3 linked regions of the Homo sapiens genome follow. The protein of the gene in region 1 interacts with the protein of each later gene in a biochemical or structural test. Each region holds a gene or a part of one and is shown in the gene's direction. Other genes may lie near its edges.

Evidence for each region.
Region 2: the proteins of CYTH1 (region 1) and IPCEF1 form a complex in vitro, tested with the Homo sapiens proteins (one study listed by BioGRID).
Region 3: the proteins of CYTH1 (region 1) and INAVA form a complex in vitro, tested with the Homo sapiens proteins (one study listed by BioGRID).

What each region holds. Positions count from the first base shown.
Region 1 is NC_000017.11:78,771,734-78,779,667, reverse strand, and holds part of CYTH1 (cytohesin-1), read left to right. Parts: intron 1-7,934. UniProt on the Homo sapiens protein: Promotes guanine-nucleotide exchange on ARF1, ARF5 and ARF6. Promotes the activation of ARF factors through replacement of GDP with GTP.
Region 2 is NC_000006.12:154,153,569-154,158,310, reverse strand, and holds the end of IPCEF1 (interactor protein for cytohesin exchange factors 1), read left to right. Parts: 3' UTR 1-3,815; downstream 3,816-4,742. UniProt on the Homo sapiens protein: Enhances the promotion of guanine-nucleotide exchange by PSCD2 on ARF6 in a concentration-dependent manner.
Region 3 is NC_000001.11:200,889,562-200,898,326, forward strand, and holds the start of INAVA (innate immunity activator protein), read left to right. Parts: upstream 1-5,338; 5' UTR 5,339-5,526; intron 5,527-8,745; coding exon of another isoform or gene 8,746-8,765. UniProt on the Homo sapiens protein: Expressed in peripheral macrophages and intestinal myeloid-derived cells, is required for optimal PRR (pattern recognition receptor)-induced signaling, cytokine secretion, and bacterial clearance.

The sequences.
Region 1 (7,934 bases):
TCATTTCTCTCGACCTCCTACCTCCCTCTTATTAAGATCCTTGTGATTATAGTGGGACCCACCTGGATAATCAAGGCTAAGGATTAGCAACCTTAATTCCATCTGTTACCTTAATTCCCCTTCTGCCATGTAAGGTAACCTATTCACAAGTTCTGGGGATTAGTACCCGGACTTCTTTAGGGGCTGTTATTCTGTCTGCCACACACGAAGATGAGAAAGTTTGTAAGTTTATTCTTCCCCTTTCTTTTTTTTTTTTTTTTTTTTTTTGAGATGGAGTTTCACTCTTGTTGCCCAGGCTGGAGTGCAATGGCGCAATCTCGGCTCACTGCAACCTCTGCCTCCCAGCTTCAAGCGATTCTCCTGCCTCAGCCTCCTGAGTAGCTGGGATTACAGGCATGCGCCACCACGCCTGGCTAATTTTGTATTTTTAGTAGAGACAGGGTTTCTCTGTGTTGTCCAGGCTGGTCTCAAACTCTTGACCTCAGGTGATCTGCCTGCCTAAGCCTCCCAAAGTGCTGGGATTACAGGCATGAACCACCCCGCCTGGCCTGTTCCCCTTTCTACAGTTTTAAATATCATCCTTTTATTTTGGAGGAACTAAAAAGATTGAAGATTCCCCACCCAGAGGGTCACCACACAAAAAGTACCTGATGGTGTAAGATGATCATATGAAGAATAAGACTCCCAAGTTCTTTAAGGTTTGTGTTAGTCTCCAGAACTGTCCATTTCCCTCATAGGTTTCACAGAGAATTTACCTTGACCAGATCCCACATTGTAAAAGGAAATGTGTGTGATGGATTCATAAAGCATATAACATGACGTGTTCAGACGTCACCTCAGAACTTCCATTGTTTTCTTTTAAACAAACTTTTTATTATTATTATTTTTTAAATAGTTGCAGAGTCTCACTATGTTGCGCAGGCTGGTCTAAAACCATCCTCCCGCCTTGGCCTCTGAAAGTGTTGGGTTGAGTCACTGTGCCAGGCCTAATTAAACTTTTTCTTTCTTTTTTTTTTTTTTTTTTTTTTTTGAGATGGAGTCTCACTGTGTTGCCCAGGCTGGAATGCAGTGACGCAATCTTGGTTCACTGCAACCTCTGCCTGCTGGGTTCAAGTGATTCTTCTGCCTCAGCCTCCCAAGTAGCTGGGATTACAGGCACCTGCCACCACACCCGGCTGATTTTTGTGTTTTTAGTAGAAATGGGGTTTCACCATATTGGCCAGGCTGGTCTTAAACTCCTGACCTCAAGTGATCCACCTGCCTTGGCCTCCCAAAGTGCTGGGATTACAGGCGTGAGCCACCACGCCCGGCCCTAAATAAACTTTTTAAACCTTAATTTTTTTTCCCTTTTTTTTTTTTTTTTTTTTTTTGAGACAGTCTTGTTCTGTCACCCAGGCTGGAGTGTGGTGGCACAGTCTTAGCTCCCTGCAGCTTCCACCTCCTGGGTTCATGCGATTCTCCCTCAGCTTTCTGAGTAGGGGTTACTACAGGCACATGCTATCATGTCTGGCTAATTTTTGTATTTTTAGTAAAGATGGGGTTTCCCCATGTTGGCCAGGCTGGTCTTGAACTCCTGACCTCAATTGATCTGCCTGCTTCAGCCTCTCAAAGTGCTAGGATTACAGGCCTGAGCCACCAAGCCCAGCCTAAACCTTAATATTTGATTTTCAGAATAATGAGAAACATTTCTTGTGGTGTTAACTTTGTGTGTGCGCTGTTTTCAACAGTGCTTCCTCTGTCCCTGTCCCTGTCCCTGCTGCGTAAGTTGGTAACGTTTTGTGAATCAGCCTAGGACAGGTACCACTGTTTTTAGAATTCTTTCTTTTTTTTTTTTTTTGTATTTTTAATAGAGATGGGGTTTCACCATGTTAGCTAGGATGGTCTCGATCTCCTGACCTCGTGATCTGCCCGCCTCAGCCTCCCAAAGTGCTGGGATTACAGGTGTGAGCCACCGCGCCCGGCTTTAGAATTCTTTCTGGAGGGAAATGCATTGTAATTTCCTGGCTACCTTTTAGTATTAAAAAACTTTTGGAACATAGCTCATTGATAATATGCTATAGAAAGAGAGTCTTAGAGTTTCTCTGTCCAATTAAAGACAATTTCAAAAACCAACAAAAAGGCTTTCTCAGTTCCAGTACTCTTTTGTATTCATTAGATAGGGACAGTTTGGTTCAGACTACACCTGTGTGGGATATATCTTTACTGGTTTGTTTATTTATTTAATTTATTTATTTTTATTTATTTATTTTTGAGACGGAGTCTTGCTCTGTTGCCCAGGCTAGAGTGCAGTGGCGCAATCTCGGCTCACTGCCAGCTCTGCCTCCTGGGTTCACACCATCTCCTGCCTCAGCCTCCTGAGTAGCTGGGACTACAGGCACCCGCCACCACACCCGGCTAAATTTTTGTATTTTTAGTAGAGACGGCGTTTCACCATGTTAGCCAGGATGGTCTCGATCTCCTGACCTCGTGATCCATCCGCCTCCCAAAGTGCTGGGATTACAGGCGTGAGCCACCGCGCCCGGCCTTATTTTTTTTTTTTTGTGAGACAGAGTTTCACTCTTGTTGCCCAGGCTAGAGTGCAATGGGGCGATCTCGGCTCACCGCAACCTCCGCCTCCCAGATTCAAGCAATTCTCCTGCCTCAGCCTCCCAAGTAGCTGGGATTACAGGCATGCGTCACCACGCCTGGCTAATTTTGTATTTTTACTGGAGACAGGGTTTCTCCATGTTGGTCAGGCTGGTCTCGAACTCCCGACCTCAGGTGATCCCCCTGCCTAGGCCTCCCAAAGTGCTGGGATTACAGGTGTGAGCCACTGCACCTGGCCTATTGGTTTCTTTTTTTAAAAAAAAAAAAACTGTTTATGGCACTGTGGAGTCCCACCAGACAAACCATTAACTTAAGAAAATACTATTCTGCTCAGGAAAAAGAAAAAAATCGTAAAAATTAAATTTTGCATACATTTTCTTTATAACATGCATACTGTGTGTACTTTTTTTTTTTTTTTTTTTTGAGACAGAGTCTCGCTCTGTTGTCCAGCCTGGAGTCCAGTGGCACGATCTTGGCTTACTGCACCCTCTGCCTCCCGGGTTCAAGCGATTCTCGTGCCTCAGCCTCCTGAGTAGCTGGGACAACAGGCGTGTGCTACCACGCTCAGCTAATTGTTTTGTATTTTTAGTAGAGATGGGGTTTCATCATGTTGGCCAGGCTGGTCTCGAACTCCTGACCTCAAATGATCTGCCCGCCTCAGCCTCCCAAAGTGCCGGGATTACAGGTGTGAGCCATTGCGCCTGGCTTGTGTGTACTGTTGCCAGTATATATTTCTGTGTAATAATGTTCAGGGTTGTAAACAGAAAACCACATATAATGCACTTTAAGGGAGTATTTGCGGGATTTTCCAGAGAGTATGTTCATCCTGTTGCTCTGTAATGGTCATCATTTTGGGGCTAATGACTGCAGTTGCCGTGATTCAATTATGAACTTCCTTTTTAAGCATAATTTCTTTTTTTTGTTGTTGAGACAGAGTTTTACTCTGTTTCCCAGGCTGAAGTGCAGTGGCGTGATCTTAGCTCACTGCAACTTCTGCCTCCTGGGTTCAAGTGATTCTCCTGTCTCAGCTTCCCAAGTAGCTGGGATTACAGGCATGTGCCACCACACCCGGCTGATTTTTGTATTTTTAGTAGAGACGAGGTTTCACCATGTTGGCCAGGCTGATCTCAAACTCCTGACCTCAGGTGATTTGCCCACTTCAGCCTCCCAAAGTGCTGGGATTACAGGTATGAGCCACCGTGCCTGGCCTTTAAGCATAATTTCTATATAAACATTTAAAATGAAAGTTGCTGGAGTCTATCATGTTCATTATAGCAAATGCATGTCTTATTTTTGTTCCTTTCAAGAAGTTAGCTTCAATTAGGGAAGTTGTCAACAGAGAATTTTAAAATAATTTTTAGGTGAGTTTTCAAATGAAAAGGAAGAGACGTCTGCAAATGTCCTTTACTTATTCAGCTTCTGAAATACCTTACTTTTTATTTGCCTTTGATGTAATTTTTACATTGAGTTCCCAGATTGATTATCTAAAGCAGGAAAGGTAGAACTAATTCATTATCTAAAACAAGAAAGAACAAATTTCAAGTTAAAATAGCAGTGTTTTCAGCAAGAATTAAAAAAACGAGGTTTCACTTTCTCTGTAGAGGAAGAGTGGTGGGGTAAGACATTCAAGAAAGTTGTTCATTCGCATATTTCGAGAAGCATTGAGGTCCAATTGCATAAAAACGTATCTGCTGTCTCTAGCTTTGGCCTTTGAGGGAAGGATATAAGGGAATACTCAGGACAGGGGTAAAAAGAAAAAAGACCCTTAGCACCCGAGGCTTTCAAGATCACTCTTAATTAGTAACTTCCTTCCATCTCTCCTCTTCCCCTAACCCCCAGCGGCCCCCCCAATCTTCATGGGCCACAGGAGACTGTCAGGGTGTTCAGCCTGGTTTCTGTGCCGGGTTAGGTGTGGTGTCATAACACACAGAGGGACCTCAGGAGGACTAACCCTGTGGTCTGTGGATGGTGTGATGCCTCGGGAGCTGGGGTGACTGCAGGGGTGGGTGCCTAGTGGCACAGAGGGAAAGCAGGCAGCAAGTCCAGGGCCGTTATGCCAGCCACAGGTGGTGGGCTGTCTGAGGGAGCAGTGCCTTGCGGCAGTTCTAACCCGATTTCCCATGCCGAATGCCCTGGTGGGTACTTCGGGGGTTTGATAAGAAAAGAGAGTAGTTTCTTCTGTGTTTTCATGGAAAGGAGTTTTCTCACAGGCATAATCTTGAGTGTCTACTCAAGATTTGGGAACATTTCACATGTATGTATTACGGTTTGTGACCAAAGACTCTGGATAAAAGGAGGATTTATATCAGAATTATAGGAAGAGCTGTCATGCTGTACCATGGAGACCTGTGTGTGGGTGGTGAGAAGATTCAACAAGAAAAATAAGGTCTGGGCACTGGCATGTCTGGGTGCTGCTGCGGGCTGGGGAGAGGAGCCTGTTGCATTTAAGAAAGATTTGCCTTTTCATCACCATGTCTCCAGAATAGGCATGGTGCCTGGGGCCCTACAGAGGCAGCTCAGCAACTGTGGAGGGAATAATGGATTGAACCAAGTTCCATCTTGTAAAAAGTTAATATGTGGTGAGTTTGAGTTTTTTTCCTCAACTCTCCATTTCAAACAGAAACCAGAACACTTCTGTGCATGTTTGACCCCATGCAGAACCCGTTTTCTTTGTTTTTCTATGATATGGATGACTTCCATTATTCTCAAACTTAGTTACTAACTTACTGATTTGCCTTTATTGAAAAGAACACAATTATTTACAGTGAACACCTTCTTAGAAAATCTGGAACATAAGGTTGCCATAATTATACACACTTTGTGGTCTTTAAGATATATTCTCAGGGTGACATGAACATGTCAGAGTATAAACATTTTTAGAATTCTTGATGTCTGGTGCCAACTTTTTCCAAAAGGGCTGCACCAATTTACTCTTTTCTTAGCAATGTATCAGTACACGTACCTGTAATAGTGCAAATGTGCCCTCAGTGAGGATCAACATTTTAAAAGTTTTTTTTTAAAACAAACAAGCAAACAAACTGAATTTGGTGGTTACAAAATGGTGACTTATTAAATCTACTGATCACTAGCTGGATTGAAAAAAATTTTTATTTTGCATATTTGTGTATTATGAACTGGCTACATCATAAGAAATGATGGTTTATTTACTTAACTTAGGTTAACTCTTTTCTATCAAATAAAGTGATTTACAGGTTTTTGTCACTGTTTTAAGCATGGGGAAAATGTGTATCAGTTTTGACTGGGGTTTAGGTTAGATTTTGGCTAATTGTAACAGTCGTTTACCTTTCTTTTAATTTTTCTTTTAAAGATGAAAGATCTCTCAACCCATATATTGTCTTCTGGCCAACTACAAAATGTTTCCTTACGAGAAGAAATTGTGAATTAAATAGATTTTTAGAAAATTTAATTTAATTTAATTTTTTTTTTTTTTTTGAGATGGAGTCTTGCTCTGTCGCCCAGGCTGCAGTGCAGTGGCACAATCTCGGCTCACTGCAACATCTGCCTCCCGGGTTCAAGCAATTCTTGTGCCTCAGCCTCCTGAGTAGCGGAATTACAGGCGCACGCCACCATGCCCTGCTGATTTTTGTATTTTTAGTAGAGATGGGGTTTCACCATGTTGGTAAGGCTGGCCTCAAACTCCTGACCTCAGGTGATCCGTCCGCCTCGGCCTCCCAAAGTGCTGGGATTACAGGCGTGAGCCACCGCTCCTGGCCAGTAGATTTTTTTTTTGAAACTATAATTTTTCTTTTAATTAAATAGAGCAGGGTCTCACTGTGTTACCCAGGCTGGTCTTGAACTCCTGGCCTCAAGTGATTCTCCTGCCTTGGCTTCCTAAAGTACTAGGATTACAGGCATGAGCCACCACACCTTCCTGTGAATTAAACAGATTGTATTGGTCTGGGTTATAATGATAAACTGTTCAGTTTCAGGCTGGGCATGGTGGCTCATGCTTGTAATCCCAGCACTTTGGGAGGTCGAGGTGGGCAGATCGCTTAAGCTCAGGAGTACAAGAGCAGCTTGGGCAACATGGTGAAAACCCATCTCTACTAAAATACAAAAAAAAATTAGCCGGGTGTGGTGGTGCCTGCCTGTGATCCCAGCTACTCAAGAGGCTGAGTCACTAGAATCGCTTGAACCTGGGAGGCGGAGGTTGCAGTGAGCTGAGATCGTGCCACTGTACTCCTGCCTGGGCAACAGAGTGAGACCATGTCTCAAAAACAAAACAGGCCAGGTGTGGTGGCTCACGCCTGTAATCCCAACACTTTGGGAGGCCAAGGTGGCCGGATCATGAGGTCAAGAGATCGAGACCATCCTGGCCAACATTGTGAAACTCTGTCTCTAATAAAAATAAAAAAATCAGCTGGGTGTGGTGGTGCACGCCTGTAGTCTCAGCTATTCAGGAGGCTAAGGCAGGAGAATTGCTTGAACCTGGGAGGCGGAGGTTGCAGTGAGCCGAGATCGCGCCACTGCACTCCAGCCTGGCGACAGAGTGAGACTCCATCTCAAAAAACAAAAACAAAAACGAAACAAAACAAAACACTTCAGTTTCTGGAATCTTATGGCTCATACCTGCTCCTTTCTAAATGTTCCATGTGTTAATCAAAAGAGATTATGTCAAACAGATTTTTTCTTCAGTATTTCTTGCATTCACGATCAGTTAGGACACTTATTCTATAGTAAGAATTAGAAGATTGCCTTCTTATTTCAAGTATGGGGGGCACACATCATAGGTCATTTGGAACAGGAGAGATGAAAGGGATGAAACATCTCTGTGTATTGTGCTGGACCGGTGGAAGACTTCAACTTGAGAGCCGTGTCGAGTCTGGTCGAGTCTGCTTTCCTGTTATTGTTCCACACCTTTCCTGCTCTCCTCTCCAAGATGAAAGTCTTCAGAGTGGGCTTCTAAAGAAAAGAACTTTGCCTGAACCTGTCCATTTGCTCCGTTGCCACACTACTTGATTGTCTCTAATTATTGTTGCAATTTAGTTTCAGTTGCAATCATAGAGGCATGGAGGAGGTGGAAAATTATTTAGAAATGATCAAGAAGTGAATCCCACATCCTCTGAAACTGCTGGTAATGTTGTTTTGCTTCTCTGTTTGCATTAACTTCAGAAAAACACAAAAGCAGTGAAGGGTATGTAGGGGATTTCTATGACTCCTCATTATCCAGGATAGCGTGACATTGTATATTTCTGCTTTTATGGTAGTGAGATGGTTATTAGCTGCTTTCTTTAGTGACTGAATTTTATAGTAAGGGCCAGGATAATACCTTCCTTATCCAAGTCTTTATATTTTCCACCTTTTCTTTTCTTTCTTTTTTTTTTTTT
Region 2 (4,742 bases), on another chromosome or scaffold:
ATAGGAATAACCACAACCCACCAAGTACCCATGTTGGCCCTGCCTACCCGTAACAAATTGTTCACACAACCTATTTTGTTTTATAGCTTCAAAGTGTGGCTTGACATTCAAATGGAAGGAACCACCTGAATTATATCTGCAAACAAAATGGAAATAGTTGTTGAATAGTTCCCCAAGCTTTACTAAGAAGCCTTAATACTCTGTAAACAAACAAACAAACAAAAAACAACCTTAGCATTAAGAAATAAAAACAAAAAACAAGAAGCAAGTTGTACTGCTAGAAACTTCTCTAAGATAAGAGGCCAGGCCAGTCAGTTTGGCCCAGCAAACATGTGGGTACTTCTCCACCTAGGGAAGCCACTGAAGATGAGTTTGACCTGTGGTGACCTGACAGAGAGAACATTCAGATCCTCAGATTGCACCCTGATGCCCTGGTTTAGGAAAGCAGTGCTTTAACCTTTTGCCCCTGGAAATTACTGATTCTTTCTGTGATTAGCAGATACCAGAAGGGAAATTATTTAGGATTGGCAATGTAAAGAGTATTGAAGGAACAACAAATAACAATAGCAGAAATAACAGTGTGACATAAAGTGCCCTTCCACCTATTTTTCTTTGGTTTGCAACACCAGCCTGTAGACTTCCAGTTTTTCTTAAATTGAAGAGCTCCAGACACTTTTGAGCAGGGTTTGTGAATAGCTTTGAATGCTTTCCTTTGGCTTTTCGTGAAGACATATTTCCCCAGCCTTTCAACTGTAAACTCCTTTAGTACCATTGAAACTTAAGGCAAAAAAGATCCCTGGGATTACTTAGCCAAGGCTTAAATTTATTTTTCAAAGTCAAGAACATTAGCCTAGAAGTTTTTGCTTTGCTAGTTAAAGCTTACTTTGCAGAGCTTCCCAAAGTGAAAGGGAAACTGAACTTCACAATTTTGCACCTGGCTTTCTGGAGCCCCATTGCCTGCTCATTCGTGTTTTTCCCCCTGTAAATTATTTTGCTTTTGACCAGGTTGTGCTAGAAAGTAGGGCTGCTTCTGTGAGTTCTCAGCCTAGGCTGTGGCCACTAAGACGTGGGTGGGGGGATAGACAGGAGTGAGAGGGAGAGTGGGTGACACTTTCCGTGACACTTAATGTAGGAAGACATGGGCTTCTCTCTCTTGGCCTCAAGCCACTTTTCTGGTCCAAAGAATATTGGGAAAACTGGATTACTTTCAGTATATTTCTTGAGACCGGGTCATCTCTGAAATGCATTTGGGGTAGTTTCCTGGGGTCCAAGGGCCAATTCCTATACCCAGTCCTGCAGTGTCTGTGAGCTGTGGAATGAGAGAGAAAACCATGGCTGCTCAGGAAGGAAGTGGAGAATCTCTCAGCACACGTAGATCCAAATCTGTGGCACCTGCTAAAGATTAGGATTTGGAGAGGACTCCTCTTTGGGGTTGTGAAGAGGACCTTTTCCCTCTGTTGTTAGCCTGTAGATCCAGAACGGAGCCTGATGTGATGCCTTCACTGGTTGATATATTGCAAATAGACACTCTGAGCCCTGCATTGCAAGGGCGTCTTTTGCTTTAAAGAATTCTTAGTTTTGCCACAACAGCTCAAATCTCAGAATAGGATCAAAGGCCTAGAAAGACTCCTAAAGTATAGGATTACAAAGACTCCAGGAAGCGTAAGAAAGAGATTGTGTTTGGAGTCAGATTTCAATGTGAAACCCATGCCTTACATTTACACAGCACTTTGTAGTTTGCAAATTGGTGTGTTTTCAGCCCCCTCCCGCTGCCCCATGCTCTGAGATGATTGTGGATTATTACAGTGAAGTGCCTGGCCCGGAGCCCCCAGTGATGAAGCAGGAACTTGAGTCTCAGGACTCCCAGCGGCTCTCTGCCCATTTCCTCCTCTCCGCCCCCCACCTCGCTTCACCTGTTACCTTGTGAAGTTGCTGTTGGCACATAGCCCACTAGGAAACCAAGAAGTTTGACTGGGAGCGTGTGTTTCATTGCACTGGGCTTAGCATACGGCTGGCCCTGGTGGCTGTTTGGCTAAATTCTCCATTTGAAACCTAAAGGGCCCTCTCTGTGCTTGAGCACAGTCTCCTCCTAGTGGTCCTGCCTCAACCTGCTGGCGGGCTGTCTATGGATTGGGGTTTCACCTAATCATGCTGTGTTTCCTTTCTTTTCTTTCTGTACATTAGACTACTTGGGAGGTGCTGTGTGATCCTTGGATGAAAAACATATATTTAAAGAAATGGAGAGTGTTTATTTTGTTTGCTTTTTGAGGCATGTGCTGTCAAATGTTAGAGACCAAACTTAGTGATTAGAGGTTGGTCCTTTGACCTTCTTCTCTTAATTGCTTTTCATGTAATCATGATAATTTACTCAGGTAGCACTCCAGTCACAAACAATGTCACAGAGATGAAACAGATTCAAAGAAAAAATATTTTTAAGTCTTTTGAAAAGAAGTGCTATTCAAATTTAAGACATGTTTAAATTCATAGGTACATTATCTCTTAGTAAGAAATACTTTTTTTTTTCTTTTTTTAGACAGAGTCTTGCTCTGTTGCCCAGGCTGGAGTGCAGTGGCACGATTTTAGCTCACTGCAACCTCTGCCTCCCTGGTTGAAGTGATTCTCCTGCCTCAGCCTCCCGAGTAGCTGGGACTACGCCCGGCTAATTTTTATATTTTTAGTAGAGACCGGGGTTTACCATGTTGCCCAGGCTGGTTTCAAACTCCTGACCTCAGGTGATCTGCCTGCCTCTGCCTCCCAGAGTGCTGGGATTACAGGTGTGAGCCACCACACCTGGCCGAAAGACAGTATTTTGATATAGCCACATACATGATTTAATGAGTAATGTTAAGTACAGAAAAGCTGCCATATCCACATAGTTTTAGGGGGCATTTCTTCTTCAGTCTAACAAGAATATGATATCCAATTGTGGTTTTCCAATTTATTTCTCTTCCAATTTCTTTTGTATACCTCACAGGAGAAATTGAATCCTAGAACTGGGAGATGACTGCCCTGCCCAGGGTTTTGTAATACATAATTGAAAATAAAAGTCCCTGAAACTAAATGTTTGCAGCCTGTATGAAATGGACTGTGGAAGGGGGATAATTTCTCTCCTCACAGAAAGCCACTCGTCTCCTTGAATGAGGCATTGAGCAGACACACGTTTCTCTGTGTCGTGGGGCAGGAAGCAATTCCCTTGCCTCTTCAGCACATCTCAGTTCTTTCCCACATGACCCCAGAACCACATAGAAAACATTGAAAATAATGGATTCTTCATTGTATTTGAATTTTTTTTTTTTAACCTTTAGCCCAAAAGGGAAGTGTGCCTCGTGGAAAGAGCAAATGCCGTAAAATAGAAACCAGGAGTTTTAATCGCCATATATTTTAATGTGCTTGCATGATGGGAATGTGACTTTTAGCACTGCATGGTGTTTGGGGGCAAGATATTAATGTGGAAATCTTAGCTTAAGTTTTACTGTGCTCTCATCCTGTGTCAGCTACCCCTCTAAACTGAAAAAGAGGCATGGCTCATTTCTCTCCTGCTTTATGTTTTTGAGGTTGACTTGTAAGATAAAAATAAAAATAAGAAAAAAATATATCTAGGCAAATGACATGAAAAAAAAGTTGAAATATACTACTGGTGTTCATTTTTGTCCTGCAGTGTTGCTTTCTCAAAGAAATAAACATGTGGCTGGAAGTGTTTAATGGCTGCGTTTTGATCGTCTACAACAAGGTTACAGTGCCCTCTGGTGGCAGTCATCAAAATCGCTTCTAGACTTGTTTTTATTTTTAAATAAAAGATCTAATTATATTGGAAATCTGTTTCAACAATAATCGATGTGGTCTTTTCCAGTGGTTCTCAAGTTACAGGTTTATTAATACAATAATATTTAGATTTTTCAAAAATTGCCATTGGACCACTAAATTTGACTTGCACATTGTATTACTTATTATTTCTAGGCACCCACATTTTGTTTAAAGAATTTTTAAAATTTGCATATTATAAAAGTTACAAAATGTGGTACACAAGCTGCTTAAAACATATGAGATATTTATTTGAAAATGAACAAAGAAAATAATGAAATAGCCTAATAAATTGCCTTTCTTTGGATCCACTGATCAGAGGGAATCAGCCTGCATTTGAACTGATTCATGCTCCTTGACTGCTGTCTACACACACAGTTTTCATTTTGTTCCTGACTCTCTCCCAAGTCTCACCTCACAAGCCAAGCTCCACCTTCTGTCTTCTTTGTCCTGCCACCACCAAATATTTCTAGGCTCCTACATGGAAGCAGGAAAAATTATTTTAGACCAAAGGTATTAGTAAAAGGTATAGGCACCATGCGTTTCCTGATTTCGGGAACAATCTCATATTATTTCCTATTCCTGATATAACAAATTACCACAAATAGAGCAGCTTCAACAAATTTGTGAACTCACAGTTCGAGGAAGGTTGCACTCCTTGTGGAGGCTCTGGGGGAGAATCCATTTCTTTGCCCACTCCCTGGGCTACAGGTGCCCCACTTCGCTTGTCTCTGAGCTTCTTCCTCCAGCTTCGGTGTCAGCAACTTGCACCTGGTGCCTTCCTTCTCTCCTCGCCTCCTCCTGGGGCTTTTTTTTTTTTTTTTTGAGATAGAGTTTCACTCTGTCGCGCAGGCTGGAGTGCAGTGGCGTGATCTTGGCTCACTGCAACCTCCGCCTCCCGGGTTCAAGTGATTGTCCTGCCTCAGCCTCCTGAGTAGCTG
Region 3 (8,765 bases), on another chromosome or scaffold:
CCTTAAAATCAATCAATCTCTCTCTTGCATTCTCTCTCTCTAGATATAGCTATCTATACATACACATCTTACTGGTTCTGTTTCTCAGAGAGTGCTGATTAATTCAAGTAGCTTCTCTTCAACTTCAGTATAAAAATCTTAAATCCTCACCTAGCCCACAAGGCTCTTAGTCATCTTACCTCATATAATGCCTTTGTACAAATTAGAAAAAGCCACCCTCTCTAGGCAGATACAGCTCTGACCAAACATAGGGCGAGGTGGGTGGAGAATGGTGAACCTTCCCTCTTAGTATAGTGCACAACCTGGACAACCACATGGAGTTGCCTTACTTTTGTTTGTTTGTTTGTTGTGTGTGTGTGTTTTTAATTGAGACAGAGTCTCGCTCTGTCACCCAGGCTGGAGTGCAATGGAGTGATCTTGGCTCACTGCAACCTCTGCTGCATGGGTTCAAGTGATTCTCATGCCTCAGCCTCCTGAGTAACTGGGACTACAGGCTCCCAGCACCATGCTCGCTAATTTTTTTTGTATTTTAAGTAGAGATGGGGTTTTGCCATGTTGCCCAGGCCATTCTTGAACTCCCGACCTCAGGCGATCCGTCCGTATTGGCCTCCGAAAGTGCTGGGATTACAAGCGTGAGCCACCGCGCCTGGCCGTTCGTTGTGGGTTTTTTGTTGTTGTTGTTGTTTTGAGACAAGGTCTTGCCCTGTCTCCCAGGCCGGAGTGTAGTCTCGGGATATTGGCTCACTGCAACCTCCGCCTCCCTGCTCAAGTGATCTTCCCACCTCAGCCTCCCAAGTAGCTGGGACTACAGGTGCGTGCCACCACTCCTGGCCAATTTCTTTATTTTTTGGTAGAGACAGGTTTTCACAATGTTGCCCAGGCTGATCTCCAACTCCTGACCTCAGTCGATCCTCTGGCCTGGGCCTCCCAAAGTGCTGGGATTATAGGCGTGAGCCTCTGCGTCTGGCTGCCCTGCTTCTGGATGAGCCACTGACTGACGAATTAGCCTCGTCTCTCTTCCATGTTCTTTCCCTTTACTCCTTCCTCATCCCAAACCCTAACCTCCCTGCAGCTCCTGGAACCTGCTGTGCTCCCTTGCTGCTGTGCTTTTGTACACCTGTCACTGCTGTTTCAAGTCCCTCTCTTATTTTCTGGTATTGCTTCCTCTGGCCAAGTTTTGCCGAGGCTCAGCCTGGGTCAGCCTTCCCTCTTCTTGCCCGGGGTCCTAGCCCTTACTTCAGGTACTGTGCTGCTTCATCACTCGTCTAGATTGGAGAATCCTCCAGTGAATGGGGCTTGAGCTTTGATCCATCGTGCTGGGCACTAGTAGGTGCTCAATAAATGTTTATTGAACAACTGAAAACCGGGAAGTGAATGAATGGATGAACGGGGACACAGCAGCTCGCAGCGGGCAGCAGGAGGCGCTCGCCGGGAGGGTGCTCCTTCCCTTCAGCCAGCCGGAGTTCAGCCAGCGGGCCCGGCGGGAGGAGTGGGAGTGGGCCGGGGCCAGGGCCGGGGAGAGGGGCCATCCCCGCGCGACCCGCAGCGCCGCACAGCGAGGGGGAGGGCGCCTGCGGGGAGGACAGGGTCGGGGGAGCGCCCTTCCGCAGGCTCCTTTCATTCTTCCACTTAGGGGTCTCCAGGAATGAAAACTGGCCCCAGCCAGGCCAGAGCGCGCGAATGAAAGGCGGCACTGGGACCAAGAGAGAAGCTTCGTCCCGCCTGGGCTGCGGAAACTGGCGGCGCCAGGGGTGTCCCACCGCGCGGGCGTCCGAAAGCGGGGCAAAGGGGACAGCCTCGCCCCTCGAGCGGCTGCTCCCGCAGCTCGCTCACCCCTGCGGGTACGTCGTCACTCCCGCGTGCGGCCCCGTCCCGACTCTTGGATCGGACTCTTCAGTCCCTTCTTGCGTCTTCCCCTCTTTCCTCTGGGCCTTGGTATGCCCCAGGGGACAGATGTCTTGGGATCTTTAACATTTGGGATGCTGCAAATGCCGAAGTTAAATGAAATACCTCCGGGGAGGGCAGGCCGCAGGGAGGCTCGGGGGGAGGGAAGATGGCCTGGACAAACAGGTCCTGAAGCTGCGAGGCTGGAGTGGAGGGCGCAGGGGCAGGCGGGCGGCGCCAGAGCTCCATGGGACAGGTAAGCGGGAAAACTTCGGGGCACCCAGTGCGGGTGAACTGGGGCGGGGGATCGGGCCCCTGAACCCACGGTCTTCAGCCTTAGCGGAGGGTGCCCTACAGGGAATGGGGTAATTTTTTCAAAGGGGCAGGAATTCTGAGTTCCTACCAAAAATGCACATTTCCAGTCCCTCAACCTTTCTCCTTCGACCTTCTTCGTGCCTGTGGATCTTCCTGGCCAGGTTCCGGGAAGCCAGAAAGCAGCCAAACAAAAGGAGCAAAGTCTCGGGCCAGCCTGGATGTGGAGGGCGCAGTGGGGGAGGGGAGCAGGGTGGACAGGACAAAGGGGCTTTTTAGAGAAAGCCTAGAGGTCTCATTTCAGGGCGCATTCCAAGCTGGCTTGGAGTTCCCCTGTCCCAGCCCACTTCACCTTTGCTTAGTGGAGGCGAACACCTTTCCTAGTGAGCAGGGAGCAGACGCGAGTAAGAAAACAGTGAAGGAACCATCTCCTACCCCTCTTGCCTGGAGGGTCCCGGGCTATTTCACTTCTTCCTTTTTTCACTGTTGTCTCTAGCGCTGGCCATTGATTCCTTAATTCTTGAAGTAAGATTTTAGCAGTGCCTGAGACTACTTTGCTGGGGGCTGTTGGGGATGTGAAGATGGTAGGACGAGGCCCTTGCTTTAAAGAACTTCCAATCTGGTGTTATCAGAAGACCCTAAAAGAAGGAACTTTTTTTTAAAAAAAATGGAGAGTGGATGGCTACAGCGCTGGGGAAGAGTTTTCTGACTCGGGACTTTTCCTCAGGAAACGAAAACACTGAAGAGGTCCAGTTTCTCTTCCCTGGGGAAGGGCTCTTGTCTGCAAAGATCAGATTCCAAGTACTATAATGTTTTGCAAGGAAATACCACTTCCTCACCAACTGGTGGTCTGGACGGCACTCTGGGGTTTGGGGCTGGGGCATCAGTCCCCTGACTCCCCGGCCTGACTGGAGTGGGGAGCTGTTTCAGATTCCCAGCTGGCCTCTGGAGTGCCCACCTCCCCCATTGGTATTTTGAATTGAATGACATGGCCATCAGAGAGCTCCAAGGATGGCTCCCCGGGGTTCTTGGCAGGAGGTTTGGTTAGCCAGCTCCCTTCCAAACCTCAGATTCTGCAAGGTTGGGAAATATTGAGCGTGAATTTGGGGGAGCAAGGTGTTTTTGAGAATTCCAAAGGATCAATGCAAACAGTGAGATTGAGCATCTGTACTAACCTCCCCTGAAGTCAGAGATGGAGGATTACCTGAGGGCAGGGATTCTTAACTGGGTTCATTGGCATTAGGCATCTGTAGATGGAATTCAGAGGATGTGTAAACTAGGTGAGGCAAAAAAAGATATCATTGTTTTTCACCAACCTTTAACAGATTTTAACATCACCTTTAGTTATGAAGACAACAAATCACAGTAGCATTGGCAGTACCTGTGACTTTGCCATTAATAGAATTCATAGTTTCATATCACACTGCAGTCACAGCAGTCTTGAAATGTTGTTTACACTCAGCCCTTGTGTGAAATTACCCACTGCTAGACCCTGCTTAATGTTAATAAAGAAGCATATATATTGCTATGTTTTTATATTTTTAGAACTTTATTTCATATAATTGACTTTTTTAGTGATCTTCTTAATTTTATTTTATGCTCAAGAAATGTGAACTGTGAGCCAATTCACAGCTGGTAGAAACTTCCACCAACCCCCACCTGGAGCTGGAGATGGGCAAGGTGGAGGAAGGGCCGCTTATGCCCAGAGTCAACCCCTCTCTGTTTGACTTTGTAAGAAAGTGCCAAGCCTCTATGGGGAGGGACGGTGTGTCACGGAGGACTGGGGAAGGGCAGGGCTGCAGGCTCTTTGGGAGACCCAGAGAACAAGCTCCCAATGGGGCGGGGGGAGGAAGAACTGTCCCCTCTTAGGGCCCCTCAGCCTCAGCCTGGGCAGAAAATGAGGTGGTCAGCCTGGAGCACTCTGGGGCTAGCATTGTTTGGAAAAAGGGTGTGTACAGGAATGTGAAGGTGTGCTGGGTGTGTGTACCGGAGCAGTGGGGGATGCTGGGGGACTCCAGCCCCATGAGTTCCGCTCCACAGGAGATGCCTGGTGAAAGCAAACTTCCTCTGTCATCCCTGCACTTGGGGGTAGGGAGTGGGGACAGGACTTTTTAGGGGCTGGGGGAGGGGAAGCAATCCAGACATGTATTGAGGCACTGGAATCTGGGTCGGGGGAATGGTGGGAAGATCAGAGAGTGGGGGGAAAGGGAGGTGGTAAGATGAAGACTTGAGGGGTGCAGCCTGCTGGGGACAGGCCAGGCAACAGTCAGCGTTAGCTCTGCTTCCGCCTTGAAATAGGCTAGATTCCAGTTTCCCATTTGCTTGGGGGTCGGTGGGATGGGAGATCTTGAGGCTTATTTTTTATAGGAAATAAGTTCCATTTTGGTCTCTGGCTCCTTGCATTTGGGGAGTGGACTTAGGGTCTGGGGTCACAGTGGACCTCCTGTGGAGTAGGAAACAGGACTTGGGCTCAGGTCAGTGCCTGTCAGTGCCCCATGAACATGCGTTGCTGGGGGATGGATGTAAATAATCAACAGAGAAGTGATGGCCTCGATACCCTTGGGGGACAATGTCTGGGATAAAAAGAACAGCCTGATCCTCTCTCTCTAGGATTCTAGAACTTCTGCATATTGGAATTCCAGCTGCCTTGCCTGAGGTTTTAAAATCCTCACTCGGGAGAGATAAAACCCAGGCCTTGGTCTTCATTTCCATATGTGGGGAAGAGCAGTGACCCATCCCTGTCAGTTTGTAAATGTCCTGCTTGTTTTTTCCATGGACAGTGGACATTTCACCTTGCTTCCGGGGTGCTTAACAGGCCTCAATTTCTGGAAAGAGAAACTGAGGTCAAAGGAAGGCAGGGAGAGCCAGGGTCAGGACAGGAGGGCACGCAGGTACCTCACAGCTCAGAATGTTGTACTAGGGTCTCTTGAGGCCATGAAGACATGACTCTTGTTGTTGTCTTCTTTGGGGATTCCTCCATGGGAGCCCCTTTTTCCCTGCTACCCTCCTGCCCCCCGGAAGTGCAGAGGCCCAGGAGCTGCCTGCTGGCACCAGTTGCACGGGATTAGTTCAGGGAAGGACTTGCTCACCTGCTCCTCCCCTCTGACTCAAGTCATAACAAGTAACCTGGTTCCCCTGGCCCGGCAGCCTGGGAGGGACGGCAAGGTAGGCAGGTGAGCCGAGACGGACGGACGGCCAGCAGCTCCGTCAGCTGGAGAGAGAGCACAGGCCTGTGGCTTGGGAGACCCTGAGGCGACATGTGAGGGCCCTGAGCCCCCTGACTGGAAGCAGGGGCTGTTTTTCAACTCCTGGACTAAAGCCCAGAAGCAGGTGAGGGCGGGGGAGGTGGAATGGGTCTTTGGGGCTGAGAGCAGGCTGGCCTGGGAGTGGAGGAGCCCAAGCAGTGGCCATCACCCCCCTCCGACCCCCACCCCCGCCAGCCTATGTCTGGTGTGTAGGGATGACAGAGGGGTGCTGGTGGGCTTGGACGGGAGCCTGTTCTTGTGGTTGCCTAGGCCTTAGTTTCCACCAGAGGGAGAGCAAGCAGAGATGAGCTGGGACAGGCAGGCCTGAGACCTGGCTTTGGGGGACACACTTGGGATAGAGGAGGATCCCCCATGGCCCGGCCTGAGGGAAGGTGCTCTGGAGTTTCCCTCCCTCCCTCTGTGCCCCTTCTGGTCTCCTCTGCCTTTTTCTGGGGACATTGTTCAGCCGGGTGGGCTGCTTTTTAGGGCCCAGTACTGGAGCTTGAAGAGGCCCAGGAGGGATCCCTGTGTTAGGGAGGGGGTGGGGATGTTACCTGAACTGCCTTTATCTAAAAGCAATGCCTTAGACACTTAAGACTCATAGCCTCCTGGGTGGGGGTGGTGCCCTCGCTCTCACCTGTTGACTCTGGGGCAGGTTCCCTACAGCTGTGGAGGGCGGCCTCGGCAGAGGCAGATGTGAGGGTCCGCTATGTGGCTGTACGGGTTTCCTTCTTGGCCTGACATTGACCAAGAGGTCGAGATTCAGACCGGGGACCTGGAAAGGCTTTAGACACTGTGCAGTCTTTATTGTGCACAGGAGGAAAGGAAGCCCCGGGAGGCCTGGTGACTTCCCCAAGGTAGTACAGACCGCAGCAGAACCAAGCCTTGAGCCCACAGCCAGGGGCTCTGGGCATCTGACGCTGTTCTCTTTGCTCTACTTGGGGCAGCAAGTCATCCCAGAGAGGACCCAGCATCAGGCTGGGACCACTGGGAAGATCAGTGCCTCCCCTTTGATGCTGGCAGTCAGAGACTGGGCTGAGCTGGGAGAAGGGGAAGCTGGCGGAGACGGGAGGCGTGCTAAGGTACCCCTCTGTCCCTGTAAGTCCCCACTCCTCTGCAACAGTCTCAGAGCCCCTGAGAAGCAGGGGCTGAGTTGGCCCAACTTTCCAAGGCAACTACTTAGTGGTTAATAATTAATTAGCAAGCGTGACTAATTAATGGCTTCCCCTCCCACATTACTTCCTCCTCTGTGCAAAGCAGACACACTCAGCATGCTAGCTGAGACCACCTTGCTTCCTACCTCTGGCTGCACCCTGCTCTTGGCTTCTGGGGAGGGTGGGAGGATGGCTAGGGTGGGTGGGAAGGGGTGGGGGTGAGCTGCCTGCTCCTCTGTCCTGTTCTTATCTCTACGAGGGATAGAGTTTGGGACAGATGGACAGTGCAGAGCTAATAGTCATCCTAAGTATCCTGCGGGGTGGGGTTCCAGAATATATGGCCAATCTTTCAGAACTTTGGCATGTTTGCAAAGGCCTCCCATAAAGTTAAAAAAAATAATTCTCCCATGCATTCTCTAGACTTCCTTGAATAATTGAAATTCCAAAGTGCAAGGTACATGTTGCTTTCAGGGCTTTGTGTTTGATTGTTGCTGCCTGTGGTTGCTGTGTTGTTTATGTAGGTCTATAAAAGTTCTTGATCGTCCTGCTCTTATCATCTTGATGGGTGGAGAGGTATCACCAGGGACCTGGCTGACAGCAGTCCCCTCTCCCTGTTGGCCTTGCTTTGTTACCAGCTTTCCCAAGGCCGACTTTTCTGTCGTGTTGGCTGCCTGAGGAGGGGTGGAGCTCACCTCCCCCACCCTGCGGCCCCGCGCTCTGAGGAGGCAGGATAGGCTCCAGACAGAAACTCGGAAGGACTTTTGGACTCTTGCTCAATGGGCTGACTCAGTGAGGAGGTGGCTGAGCTCTCTTTCCAGACCCAACCACCTGCATGGGCTCCGCCCACCCCTCCCACCCCTGCTGCAGCCAGCAGCTGCCAGGCCCTGGCCAGCTGGGACCCCAACCAGGGGTGTGGGTTGGTGAGGAGGGAGAGGGGGTGGGCACAGGTGTTATCTGGGTGACTGGTCCCTAGCTGAGCCGACACAATGGGATGGCACCTGTACCACCCAAGTGTTCTCCACCCCGAAGCAGGCAGAGGAGCAGGTGATCTCCTTTCTGTCCTTGCACAGCTTCTGCTCTAGTCACTGCTTGCCCCTCTCCTGTCAACTCTTGGCAACCCTGATAGACACAGCCCTGGGTCTCCCCTGGCTGTGGGGTGTAGGGGATCTAGGCTGATTCCCCTTCAGTGGTCTCCCAGGAGTAATTGATGGCTTGAAAGTTGTTTGAGGGCTTTGGGACAGCTCTCTGGCATACAGTGGCTGCACATATCTGCAGATGATGTGAAGTTCAGAGTCCAGGGCGCCAATTCAGAGAGTGGGCGTCCTGGACTTCGGAGGCCCCAGACCAGGGCCTTGGCCATGTGCCTGCCCACTTCTTGAAGTGTCCTCAGCCACTGGGGCGTAGGACATGCCTCACACCTCCTGGGTTCTTGGGTTGAGGATAGCTGTGTCCCATAAAGATGTCTTCCCCTTCCTCCTTTCTTTTTTTTTTGGAGACGGGGTCTCTCTGTTGTCCAGGCTGGAGTGCAATGGCGTGAACATGGCTCACTGCAGCCTTGACTTCTCCAGGCTCAGGCAATCCTCCTGCCTCAGCCTCCTGAGTAGCTGGGACTACAGGTGCACACCACTATGCCCAGCTAAGTTTCATTTTGGAGAGATGGGGTCTAAGTTGTCCAGGCTGGTCTTGAACTCCTGGGCTCAAGCTATCCTTCTGCCTTGGTCTCCAGAAATGCTGGGATTACAGGCGTGAGCCACCATGCTGGGCTTCCTTCCTCCTTTCTTTGTTATCCCATCCCATTTTTTGTCCCCTTCCTTTTTATCCTGTCTCTGCTCTTTTCCTTCTTGCCCTTCTCCCCAGTCGAGCGGTTCTTGTGGCTACCACAGCTGTCGACCCCCTTAGGCCTAGAGGACTTTGGCCCAGAGGGGAGTTAGGCTGGGCCCCTGAGAGCCCACTGAGAACAGGGTTTGCTGGTGAGGCCCACAGCCCCTTCTCTAGGTCAGCACCCCCAGTGCCAGAATCTCCTGCCCCAGATGGTTCCTGAAGCACAGTCCTCCCTTCCACTCCCCTGCTCTCAAGCATCTATTCAGCTTTTTGTAACCAAGATGGTTCATATCTAGCTTTTTTGTTATTGTTCTCTTTTCTCTTTAAAGCTGGGGAAGCTCCAGGCTAC